2 separate regions of the Homo sapiens genome follow, and region 2 is linked to region 1. The links come from fine-mapping of genetic effects on gene expression. A gene starts in region 1. The other region holds a variant in brackets. All regions are shown on one strand. Distances are between the middles of the regions. Region 1 holds the start of CPLANE2 (ciliogenesis and planar polarity effector complex subunit 2). Region 2 overlaps CELA2A (chymotrypsin like elastase 2A).

Region 1 (5,372 bases):
ACACCAGACATGTATAAGCACAGAGAAGAGGCCATCTGTAAGCCAGGAAGAGAGGCCCCACCCAGAAACCAACTCTGCTGGCACCTTGATCTTGGACTTCCAGCCTCTAGAACTATGAGAAAATAAATTTCTGTTGTTTAGAGTACCCAGACTGTGGTATTTTTGTTACAGCAGCCTGGGCTGACTCATATAGACCCCAACTTCAGAACTGCCTAGTGCTTTTGTCAAATCTGCAGGCTCACAGACCTACCCAGCCCCTGACACAGAATGTCGGGGTTGGATGTGTGAACCCCAAATATCTGAGACAGGTCACAGTCAATTTAGAAAGTTTATTTTGCCAAGGTTAAGGATGTGCCCGTGACAGCCTCAGGAAATCCTGAGACATATACCCAAGGTGGTCAGGGGTACAGTTTGCATTTAAGTTTTAGGGAGACATGAGACCTCAATCAATATGTGTAAGATGTACATTGGTTTGGTCTGGTAAGACAGGACAGCTTGAAGCAGGGGCTTCCAGGTTAGAAATACATAAGAGACAAGGCCAGGTGCAGTGGCTCATGCCTATAATCCCAGCACTTTGGAAGGCTGAGGTGGGCGGATCATGAGGTCAGGAGATCCAGACCATCCTGGCCAACATGGTGAAACCCCGTCTCTACTAAAATACAACAACAACAAAAATTAGCCGGACATGGTGGGGCATGCCTATAGTCCCAGCTACCTGGGAGGCTGAGGCAGGGGAATCACTTGAACCTCAGAGGCAGAGGTTGCAGTGAGCCGAGATTGTGCCACTGCACTCCAGCCTGGGCGACAGAGTGAGACTCTGTCTCAAAAAAAAAAAAAGTAGATAGGAGACAAAAGATTGCATTCTTTTGAGTCCTTGATCAGCCTTCCACTGAATACATAATTTTATTTATTCAGCTCTGTCACCCAGGCTGGAGTGCAGTGATATGATTCTGCTCACTGCAACCTCCACCTCCCAGGTTCAAGCGATTCTTCTGCCTCAACCTCCAGAGTAGCTGGGATTACAGGCGCCTGCCATCACAGCCAGATAATTTTTGTATTTTTAGTAGAGACAGGGTTCACCATGTTGGCCAGGCTGGTCTTGAACTCCTGACCTCGGGTGATTTGCCCGCCTCAGCCTCCCAAAGTGCTGGGATTACAGGCGTGAGCCACCGCGCCCAGCCATTTTTTTGTATATTTTTAGGGATAAGGTTTTGCCATGTTACCCAGGCTGGTCTCAAACTCCTGACCTCAAGTGGTCCACCAGCTTCAGCCTCCCAAAGTGCTGGGATTACAGGCGTGAGCCACCGCACATGGCCCCAAGAGGACTTTACATCTTCTCTGGGTTGCAGATTAACAGGCACGTTCATTCTGCCAAGTTGCTTCATTTTCTCACACGCTCACTGAGCCCTCCACGAGCCAAAGATGGGTGGATGTGAAGTCTGGAAATCCAGAAATAATTCAGATCAGAGCCCTGCCACTGAGTGACTCCTGGCCCATGGAGAGAGCTCTGGACAGCTGTGAATCTCCCTGACTGGGCAGATGTGACAGCTGCAGGAATGGGAACCATGTGACCTGGGAGTATGGGCAAAGGATTCCACCTGCAGAATCCTGTAGGAATGGTTATTCATCTGGTTTTTCTGCCTAGCCACAGCGTGAGCAAGTTGAGAGAAAGCACCTTGTCTTACACATCCTCATCCCCTCTCTTAGACATAATGGGCCTTAAAAATCTGTGAGTTCGTAGTCCTCTGGCTGCTTTCTGCTTCCCTAGGAACAGCCCTCCTAGTGGCTAGGGGCAAAGTTTTAAAAACACAAAACCCAAACTGGCAGAACAGATAAGTACTTTAGAGTCAGGTAAGTGTGGGTTCTTTTTTTTTTTTTTTTTTTTTTTTTGACAGGGCCTAGCTCTGTCACTCAGGCTGAAGTGCAGTGGCATGATCTCGGCTCACTGCAACCTCCATTTCCCGGGCTCAAGCAATCCTCTCATCTCAGCCTCCAAGTAGCTGGGACTACAGGCGTGCACTACTGTGCCCGGCTAATTTTTGTATTTTTTTTTTTGTAGAGGCAGGGTCTTACTATGTTGCCCAGGTTGGTCTCAAACTCCTGAGCTTAAGCAATCTGCCCGCCTCAGCTTCCCAAAGTGCTGGGATTACAGGCGTGAGCCACCACACCCAGCCAGCTGTGGGTTCTGAGTCGGTTTCACACTGACTAGCTGTGCGGTGTGACCTCAGACAAGTCACGTTATGTTTCTGAGAGTCTTCGTCAGTACAAGAGGGTAATACTATTTACACAGGTTTGTTTATAGAATTAAATCAGGTGACCCCTGTAAAGTCCCCACTGTCTGGCACTTGGGTGGCCTTAGGTAAAGCTTAACTCCTAAATTATTCCTTTCAAAACAGTGATTTGCCCTACTTGAAGGCATTGCGGAAAGATAATGGTAAAAATTAAATGTAATAGACAAACTCTCAGTAATGACCCACCTGCACTCTTTCCAACCAGTGGGCATTTACTGAGCACCCACCTTCTGGGTAACAGGCCTGGTGTCCAGTGCTGGAACGGTGGAGAGGAGCTCAGAGTTTCAGAGCTGAAAAGTCAGCTCCAGGAGAGCAGGGACTTCTTGTTGGCCACTGTATTCCCAGCTAGGTGCTCAGTATTTGTTGAATGAATGAATGAATGAAAAATACAATCCAGCGGGCCTCTGACTCATTTTTTAAAACTTGAGCCAAGTCCCTTGACCTCTCTGAGCTGGTGTGTGTCCCCATCAGTGAAGCCAGAGATGTTTAAGTCATCTAGAGGTCCTGCCAAGCAGGATTAATAGAGCAATAATATTAATAATAGCAACAATCATAACTAAACATATGGAGCACTGCTATGGAGGGAATAACATGTTACGTCCACGTTATAGAAGAGGAAACTGAGACACAGAGAAGCATGAAAGGCTCCTGGAGGGGGGGTTTCATGATGTTTTGGAAGAAAGACTAGGGATCGGACGGAGTCATAGAGAAGAGGATCCACAACCCAGAGGAAAAGGCCTAGTCCAGAGCCACCGCGCGGCGCAGGCTGCGGACGTTGTAGGAGGGACGAACGCCTCCCGGAACCCGCCCAACCCAACCTCCGGCGTCTCCATGGCAACAACCTCCGCACATGCGCCGCGCGCACCTGCGCCGGAGCTGCCAGCACGCGCAGAAGGCGGACGCAGGCGGGGCGGAAGTGGGCCCGGCGGGCTGGGGCGGCGGGAGTGCGGGTGGGCGTTTAAAGGGGCCTTCGGCACCCAGGTCGGTTCGCCGCCGGGACTGCTGACGGGGAGGGCTAGGTAGCCCTGGGAGTCGGGATCTAGAAGGTAGAGGAGAAGCGGGGCTGTCTGACCCCCGGAGGTGACAAGGGGAGAGGGGCTGTGTGAATACCCTCCATGGGCAGTAATGGGATGACTATCCCCAGGGAGCATTGCGAAGGAGAGAGGCGGCTGAGGGACTGCACTTTCTGGGGCCCCCCGGGAGAGTCAGAGGGCAGTTAAGAGGGATCACAGGCCCGGCTTGGTACTGTCACTCCCCTTCCCACTCCCTGCTCTCAGCATTCTGTCACCTCCCTACCCCGTCGCGGTGCCCAGCCATGGCCAGACCTCCCGTGCCCGGTTCGGTGGTTGTCCCAAACTGGCACGAGAGTGCCGAGGGCAAGGAGTACCTGGCTTGCATTCTGCGCAAGAACCGCCGGCGGGTGTTTGGTAAGTGCCTCCCCCTTTCCTCTAGCCCGCCACTTGTCTTTCCCTGGGGAGAAGAGTGTCACCTGTTGCTCCCTGAGGAGAGCAGAGAGGCAGGGCAGTGAGGGCCTGCTCCACTGCAGTCTTCAGCAGTCTTCAGCCTGGGGGACTGAAAGCCCTAGCTCTGGGACCCCCACACCTAAATCTCCTTAGAGCTAATTCCATCGTCAGAGCCAGGAACATGGAAACAGCAGAAACCTTGCCAGCAACCACTGTCACCAGAGATGCAGTTGATTGAGCACTCCCCTGGTGCCAGGCCCTCTGTTGGGCACGTTACACAGTGCACGCCCATTTAACCTCTCAACAGCACATGGTACAGACTTGGCTAAGATCACACCCCAATAAATAGAGGTGAGCCTCTTCCATGTCCTGCTGTCTCTGGGATGAGACGCTGGTGTTCCCCATGGTGAAACTGACTCACCCAGGCAGGGCCCAGCTGTCAGGCCGGCAGAGGTGCCTGGAATCAGCTGTGGAGCCCAGCTCTGGCCAGGAGAAGCAAGGTGCCAGAAGACTTAAGACCAGAGAGTGAGATAGCTAGAACCAAAATTTGTGAATAAGTCAACTGTTTGTTTGTTTTTTTAAAAGAAATTATATTAAATTCAAAAAATGACCCTCTAGAAGGCTGGGCGCAGTGGCCTGTAATCCCAGCACTTTGGGAGGCCGAGGTGGGCAAATCACCTGAGGTCAGGAGTTCAAGACCAGCCTGGCCAACATGGCGAAACCCCATCTTTACTAAAAATACAAAAATTAGCCGGACGTGGTGGCGGGCACCTGTAATCCCAGCTACTTGGGAGGCTGAGGCAGGAGAATCGCTTGAACACAGAAGGCAGAGGTTGCAGCAACCCTAGATCGAGCCATTGCATTCCATCCTGGGTGACAAGAGTGAAACTCCGTCTCAAAAAAAAAAAAAAAAAAAAGACCCTCTAATATGGCCACTGTCCCTCTAATCCCATGATGGCTGGCAACACTGTATTTGGGGTCACACATACCCAGGCAAGTGACCCAGGCTCCACCACTGCTAGCTGTATGGCTGGGAATAAGTGAACTCTAGCCTCAAGTCCCACCTCTGTAAAATGGGGATAATCACAGTATTTACCCCATAGAGTTACTGGGGAAATTAATAAGGAGGGTGTTTGTAACATACCAAGCAGGTTCTGGCATGCAGTGGGTGTTCACTGAAGGTTGGCTGTTATTGTATTTATTTTGCATTTAGTTGTGTTGAGTGGAAGAGAATTGAGTGAAGGTTGAGCTGATTTTCTGGGAACATCATAGAATCCACTGACCATATTATCTATGCCACAGATAGGATTAAGCAGCCATAACTTAGAGGAATGGCAGTGATGGCTTTTAATTTTTGTGTTTTTACTTTAACTGCAGACATTTGGGTTTTTTTTTAACAGCTGGGTTTATGCACCTGAATGTATCATTCAGTGGTTGTCATGCAGGCCCCACAACAAACGCTGAGAGCAGCTAGTAAATAAATATCAACAGACTGACTATAATGCTTAGGCTAGTCTCTTTGTATCCCAGACTTCTGTAAAATTAGGTTGAGTATTAAGAGCCACAGATGAGGCCGGGCACGGTGGCTCACGCCTGTAATCCCAGCACTTTGGGAGGC
Region 2 (5,372 bases), 770 kb after region 1:
AAAATAAAGTGTCCTGTATGAGGCCACTGAAAAAATACCTGCTGTGAATTTGCTGTGTAACCTTGGCCAGTCCCACAGGCTTTCTGGCCTGGGGTGCCTATCTACAAACAGGGAGAGGAACAGATGCTCAGTCTGTTCCATCATGTTGCTGTCAGGACTTTTTTTTTTTTTTTTTTTTTTTTTTGAGACAGAGTCTCACTCTGTCACCCAAGCTGGAATGCAGCCGCACCATCTTGGCTCACAGCAACCTCCACTAGGAGGTTCAAGCAATTCTCCTGCCTTTGCCTCCCGAGTAGCTGGGATTACAGGTGCCCGCCACCACACCCGGCTAATTTTGTATTACTTAGTAGCGTCAGGGTTGCACCATGTTGGTCAGGCTGGTCTCGAACTCCTGACCTCAGGTGATCCACCTGCCTCGGCCTCCCAAAGTGCTGGGATTACAGGCGTGAGCCACTGTACCCAGCCGCTTTCAGGATTGGAAAGTGACACAAAACTTCACTCAGTTGTGCTTAAGCCAAAGGGCCATTCATTGGGCCACAAAATGGCAAAGTCCAGGAGCAGAGCTGGGTTCAGGGCCCTGGTGATGGTCCCTGGACTTGGCTTTTCTTCAACTTTTGCTTCTGCCTTCTGCTTTGAGGTCTCATCTCAGGCTCCGTTAAGTGGCCTGTAGCTGCTCTGGGTTCTCCCTTCCTTGAGGACAAGATCACCACCGCATCTCTGGTCCAGAGTTCCTCAACTGCAGCAGTGTTGACATTTTGGGCGAGATGATTCTTGTTTTGAGGGCTGTGTCTATGTCTTGTGCTTTGCAGGAGTTTGACAGCATCCCTGGCCCCAGGCTGCTAGATGCCAGTCCCTCCCCCTCCCCACACAGTTGCCGCAACTAAAAATGTCTCCACACATTGCCAGATGTATGCTGGGGAGCAAAATAACCCCGTCTCCCCCTTCCCCTCTCGTTTTGCTTTGTAGCCTCACATCCCCTCATCCTCACACCCATGCAGTGAATGAGTGACAGCCCTCGGTAGCTCCCTGCACGAGTCGTGCAACCTCTCTGATTGGACCTGTCTCAGGTCACATGCCCATCCCTGAGCCAATCGCTGTGGTGGGGAAGGGGATGCAATGTGTTGATTGGCCAGGCCTGGAGCACGGGCTCCAGCCTTGGTCCTAGGCCATGAGGTTTCGGCAGAACCTCCGGGATCCCATGGGGCAGCGCCTGCACAGAAATCCAGGCTTCTGTGCTGGGAGGGGAGGAAAGAGAGGCAGAGGAGGCAGAGTGCAGGAAGCTGCTACAGCCCACTTCCTTCGCTGGAGCTTAGTGCTCCATTTATATATTGTTGGACAACGATGTCATGTGTCAGGTTCTAAAGTGGGCTGGGTCCTTGAGGTCTCAGTAGGGCAGGGTGACGTAGATGCGAAATTCTTTTTTTTTTTTTTTTTTTGAGACAGGGTCTCACTCTGTCGCCCAGGCTGGAGTGCGACTAAGTGATCTTGGCTCACTGCAGTCTTTACCTCCTGAGCTCAAGTGATCCTCCCACCTCAGCCTCCTGAGTAGCTGGGACTACAGGTGGGTAACACCTCGCCCATTTAATTTTTGTATTTTTAGTAGAGACAGGGTTATGCCATGTTACTCAGGCTGGTCTTGAGTTCCTGGACTCGAGTGATCTGCCTGCCTTGGCCTCCCAAAGTGCTAAGTGCTGGGATTACAGGGTTGTGCCACTGTGCCCACAGCCCTGGATGTTAGGACGGATTGCTAATAAATCTCTCATCAAGATGTGATTTGCATAGTTGTCACTTTATTATATTATTTTCCTTCTGTGACCTTTCCAAGTCTGAAACAGTCCCAGGGACTTCTTTTGGTTAGTTATTTGCAATCACCTGCAGGACACACAAGATAATCGTCAGGTTCACCTAACCGCAGAGCTGTGCATGGCAGTTTCCTGTCTCTGTCCTCCTGGGCTAAGCTACTCATGTGAGTTACAGGCAGCCCACACTACAGTAGCTCCTGCCTGAGGAGTTCTGATGACGTTTCGGAAAAAAAGATGTGATCACAGCTTTTCATTGACCTGTTAGGGTCTTCCTGTAAAGGGGGTCTTAGCCAGGAGTCCTGTGTGGGCTTCAGGGTAGGGGGCCTTCGAACCCCTAAAAATTATATTCCAAATGTGTGGATGGCATATTTTTAGATTTCATTTGTTTCTTAAATCAAAACTGCTGTTTGCAAGGCAGTTATGCACTGTGGTTGGGGCTATAACTGTTTCCAGAGGCTGTTGATCAGTGTCTGTTAAACGTTTTTTTTTTTATTTGTTTGTTTGTTTTCTTTTTGAGACAGTCTCACTCTGTTGCCCAGGCTGGAGTGCAGTAGGGCGATCTGGGCTCACTGCAACCTCCACTATGCAGGTTTAAGTGATTCTCATGCATCAGCCTCCCGGGTAGCTGAGATTATAGTCATGCACCACCATGCCTGGCTAATTTTTTGCATTTTTAGTAGAGATGAGGTTTCACCATGTTGGCCAGGCTGGTCTCAAACTGCTGACCTCAAGTGATCTACTCGCCTCAGCTTCCCAAAGTGCTCAGATTACAGGCGTGAGCCACCGCGCCCAGCCTGTTAAACATTTTGATATGCCAACTTCATGATCCAGTGCTGTAAACTGCAGGAGATCCAGCTGCTACAGCACAAATACTCAGACCAGTGTGCAAGAATTATGTCCAAGGATGTTCATTGCACAATGTAAGAGTGAAAAATAGGAAACATGAAAGCTGCATTCATTACACT[C/G]AAACTATGGAATACTATTTAGCTGTTCAAAAGAATGACATGTATGTACTAACATGTAAAATGTGATAAGGTGTTAAGTGAAAAACAGCTGCAGAACAGTATGAAGACTCAGATCTTAGTTTTTGCATAGAAGACAGTGTCTATCTACGTAAATATATAGCTATATATGCACATAAAGTTGAGACCACACACAAGCTGTTAACAATGACAACTTGGCCAGGCACAGTGGCTCATGCCTGTAATCCCAGCACTTTTGGAGGCCAAGGCGGGCAGATCACCTGAGGTCAGGAGTTTGAGACCAGCCTGGCCAACATGGTGAAACCCCATCTCTACTAAAAATACAAAAATTAGTTGGGCATGGTGGTGTGTGCCTGTAATCCCAGCTACTCAGGAGGCTGAGGCAGAAGAATCGCTTGAACCCGGGAGGTGGAGGTTGCATTGAGCTGCGATCAAGCCACTGCATTTCAGCCTGGGTGACAGAGCGAGACTCTGTCTTAAAAAACAAAAACAAAACCAATGATTACCTCTGGAGAGTGGAATTGGAGATGTAAAATGAGGGGGGACTTCTTACTTTTTTACCTGATACTCTTATAGTCTTTTAATATTTTTACAAAGAGTATGTATTACCTTCCGGAAAAAGAATAAAAACTAAGGATTGCTGAAGGTTCACATGTGACTGTCATTCAATGGACATTTGTTGAAAGGATGAATGCCCCAGGCCACTTGTCTCCTCTGCTTCTCTGCTCTTTTGCTTGTATTTCCTGACCTTGGCTCATCACCTGTCTGGGTTTATCCAGGCAGGTGCTCTCAGGCACCCCCAGGGCTCTAGTGGTATGTGACTCCAGGCTGCACACACTGTGTCCCTGGGTTGGGGCTACTGCAAGGTTTCACTAGCTCCTCCGCTGCTGCCAGGGGCAGCCCCCACCCAAGGACAGCTGGTTGCTTGGCTCTCCCCCTTCTGAAACCCGTTACCGGGCATCTGTGCCTGTCCCGACTGCTCTCCCATGAACACAGGGCCTCTGCCCAGCTGCCTTGCGAGGCGTGCTGCCCCGTGGATCCCTGCTGCCATCTGGCCATGCTTCGGGATCTGGCCTGTTCTGTTGTGCTTGTGTCTGTGGCTGGGAACAGCTGATGCTGGGAAAAAAAAATTGGGACAATTGCCCCTGCCCCTGCTTCAGGTCCCCAGGTTGCTGCCAGGACCAGCTGCATGGTGACTCCCACAGCAGCTGGGGCTGGAAAACGGTCTTAGGATTTGGCTGAGAAAGGCCCCTAAGCAGCCTCTCGTCCAGTCAGTCTCAGGCCAGGCTCCTTTGACATGTGGGTGGCGCCTCCAAAGGTGGACTCAGATGGGTTTTTCCCAATTTAGATATAAAAAAGCACCATTAATGATTAATGGCTACTGTCTTTTTGATTTTTCATTTTTGTCCAACAAACGTCTTTGGAATCTCTGCTTGTGACCACTTGTTGGCAAAAGGATGCCAGCAGACAGACAAATGAACAAGGATCTGGCAAGAATCAGTGGGAACACTTGGAAGCAGCCACCTGCTTATTTTGACAGTTTAGTTTTCCTCCTGTGACCACGTGCTCATGGCTGCAGTTTCATATTTGGTTTTATAAGTGTCAGTTTAATTCAATTTAACACTTCTCTGCAAATTAAACTTAGTGAAGTCAGATGCCAGCTTTCCCCTTCTTTAGGGGCTCTGCCACGAATACCATAACTCCCATTTGCTCTAGCGCCTAAATTGTGGAGGAGTCCTGGTCTAGTTCAAGTCCCATTTTACAGAAGAGCAAACTGAGCTGGTCCCTCATTGGCACAGAGTGTCCGACTCTTTCCTTCTAGCATCCAGTACGAGGCATGGTGGCTCCTCTGCCCTCTCATGGGCAACTCTTTCTTTTTTGTGTGTTTTTTTTTCTTTTGAGATGGAGTCTCGCTCTGTCGCCCAGGCTGGAGTGCAGTGGTGCGAACTCGGGTTACTGCAACCTCCACCTCCCAGGTTCAAGTGATTCCCCTGCCTCAGCCTCCTGAGTAGCTGGGATTACAAGCACGTATCACCACACCCACCTTATTTTTGTATTTTTAGTAGAGACGGGGTTTCCCCGTGTTGACCAGGCTGGTCTCGAACTCCTGACCTCTGGTGATCTGCCCATCTTGACCTCCCAAAGTGCCTGGATTACAGGCGTGAGCCACCAGGCATCCCTTTCTTGTGACGGGGTTTCCTGTTCTGGCTGCTTTCACCTACTGCTGCGTGTATCCATGGCTGCTCCTTAATATTGATGCCAGGTATTATTATCATTATTTTTGGAGACAGGGTCTTGCTATGTCGCCCAGGCTTAAGTGCTCACTGCAGCGTTGGCCTCCCGGGCCCAAGTGATCCTTCCACCCAAGCCTCCCAAGTAGCTGAGACTACAGGCATGTACCACCGTGCCTGAGTAATTAAAAAAAATTTTTTTGTAAAGACAGAGTCTTGCTATGTTGCCCAGGATGCTCTTGAACTCCTGGGCTCAAGCAATCCTCCCTCCTTGGCCTCCCAAAGTGCTGCGATTACAGGCATGAGCCATGGCACCTGGCCTATTATTTTTAATAAATAATTTTAATGCTCATTGT

The links. PIP is the estimated chance that this variant, and not a neighbour inherited with it, causes the effect. A credible set is the group of variants that fine-mapping cannot tell apart.
Region 2: its variant is the best candidate, but not a certain one, in a credible set for the expression of CPLANE2 in prefrontal cortex (GTEx, PIP 0.62).

What each region holds. Positions count from the first base shown.
Region 1 is chr1:16,234,977-16,240,348 of GRCh38, reverse strand. It overlaps CPLANE2 (ciliogenesis and planar polarity effector complex subunit 2), which reads left to right and starts at 3,166. Exons shown (of 5, transcript NM_030907.4): 1 at 3,166-3,718. The coding sequence starts at 3,607. RefSeq lists a silencer at 3,109-3,288 and an enhancer at 3,129-3,673.
Region 2 is chr1:15,468,490-15,473,861 of GRCh38, reverse strand. It overlaps CELA2A (chymotrypsin like elastase 2A), which reads right to left. Exons shown (of 8, transcript NM_033440.3): 8 at 1,771-1,872. The coding sequence ends at 1,855. Among named protein-coding and RNA genes, the nearest start is that of CELA2B, 4.9 kb to the left of the region's middle. The variant C/G (reference allele first, on the strand shown) is at 2,768.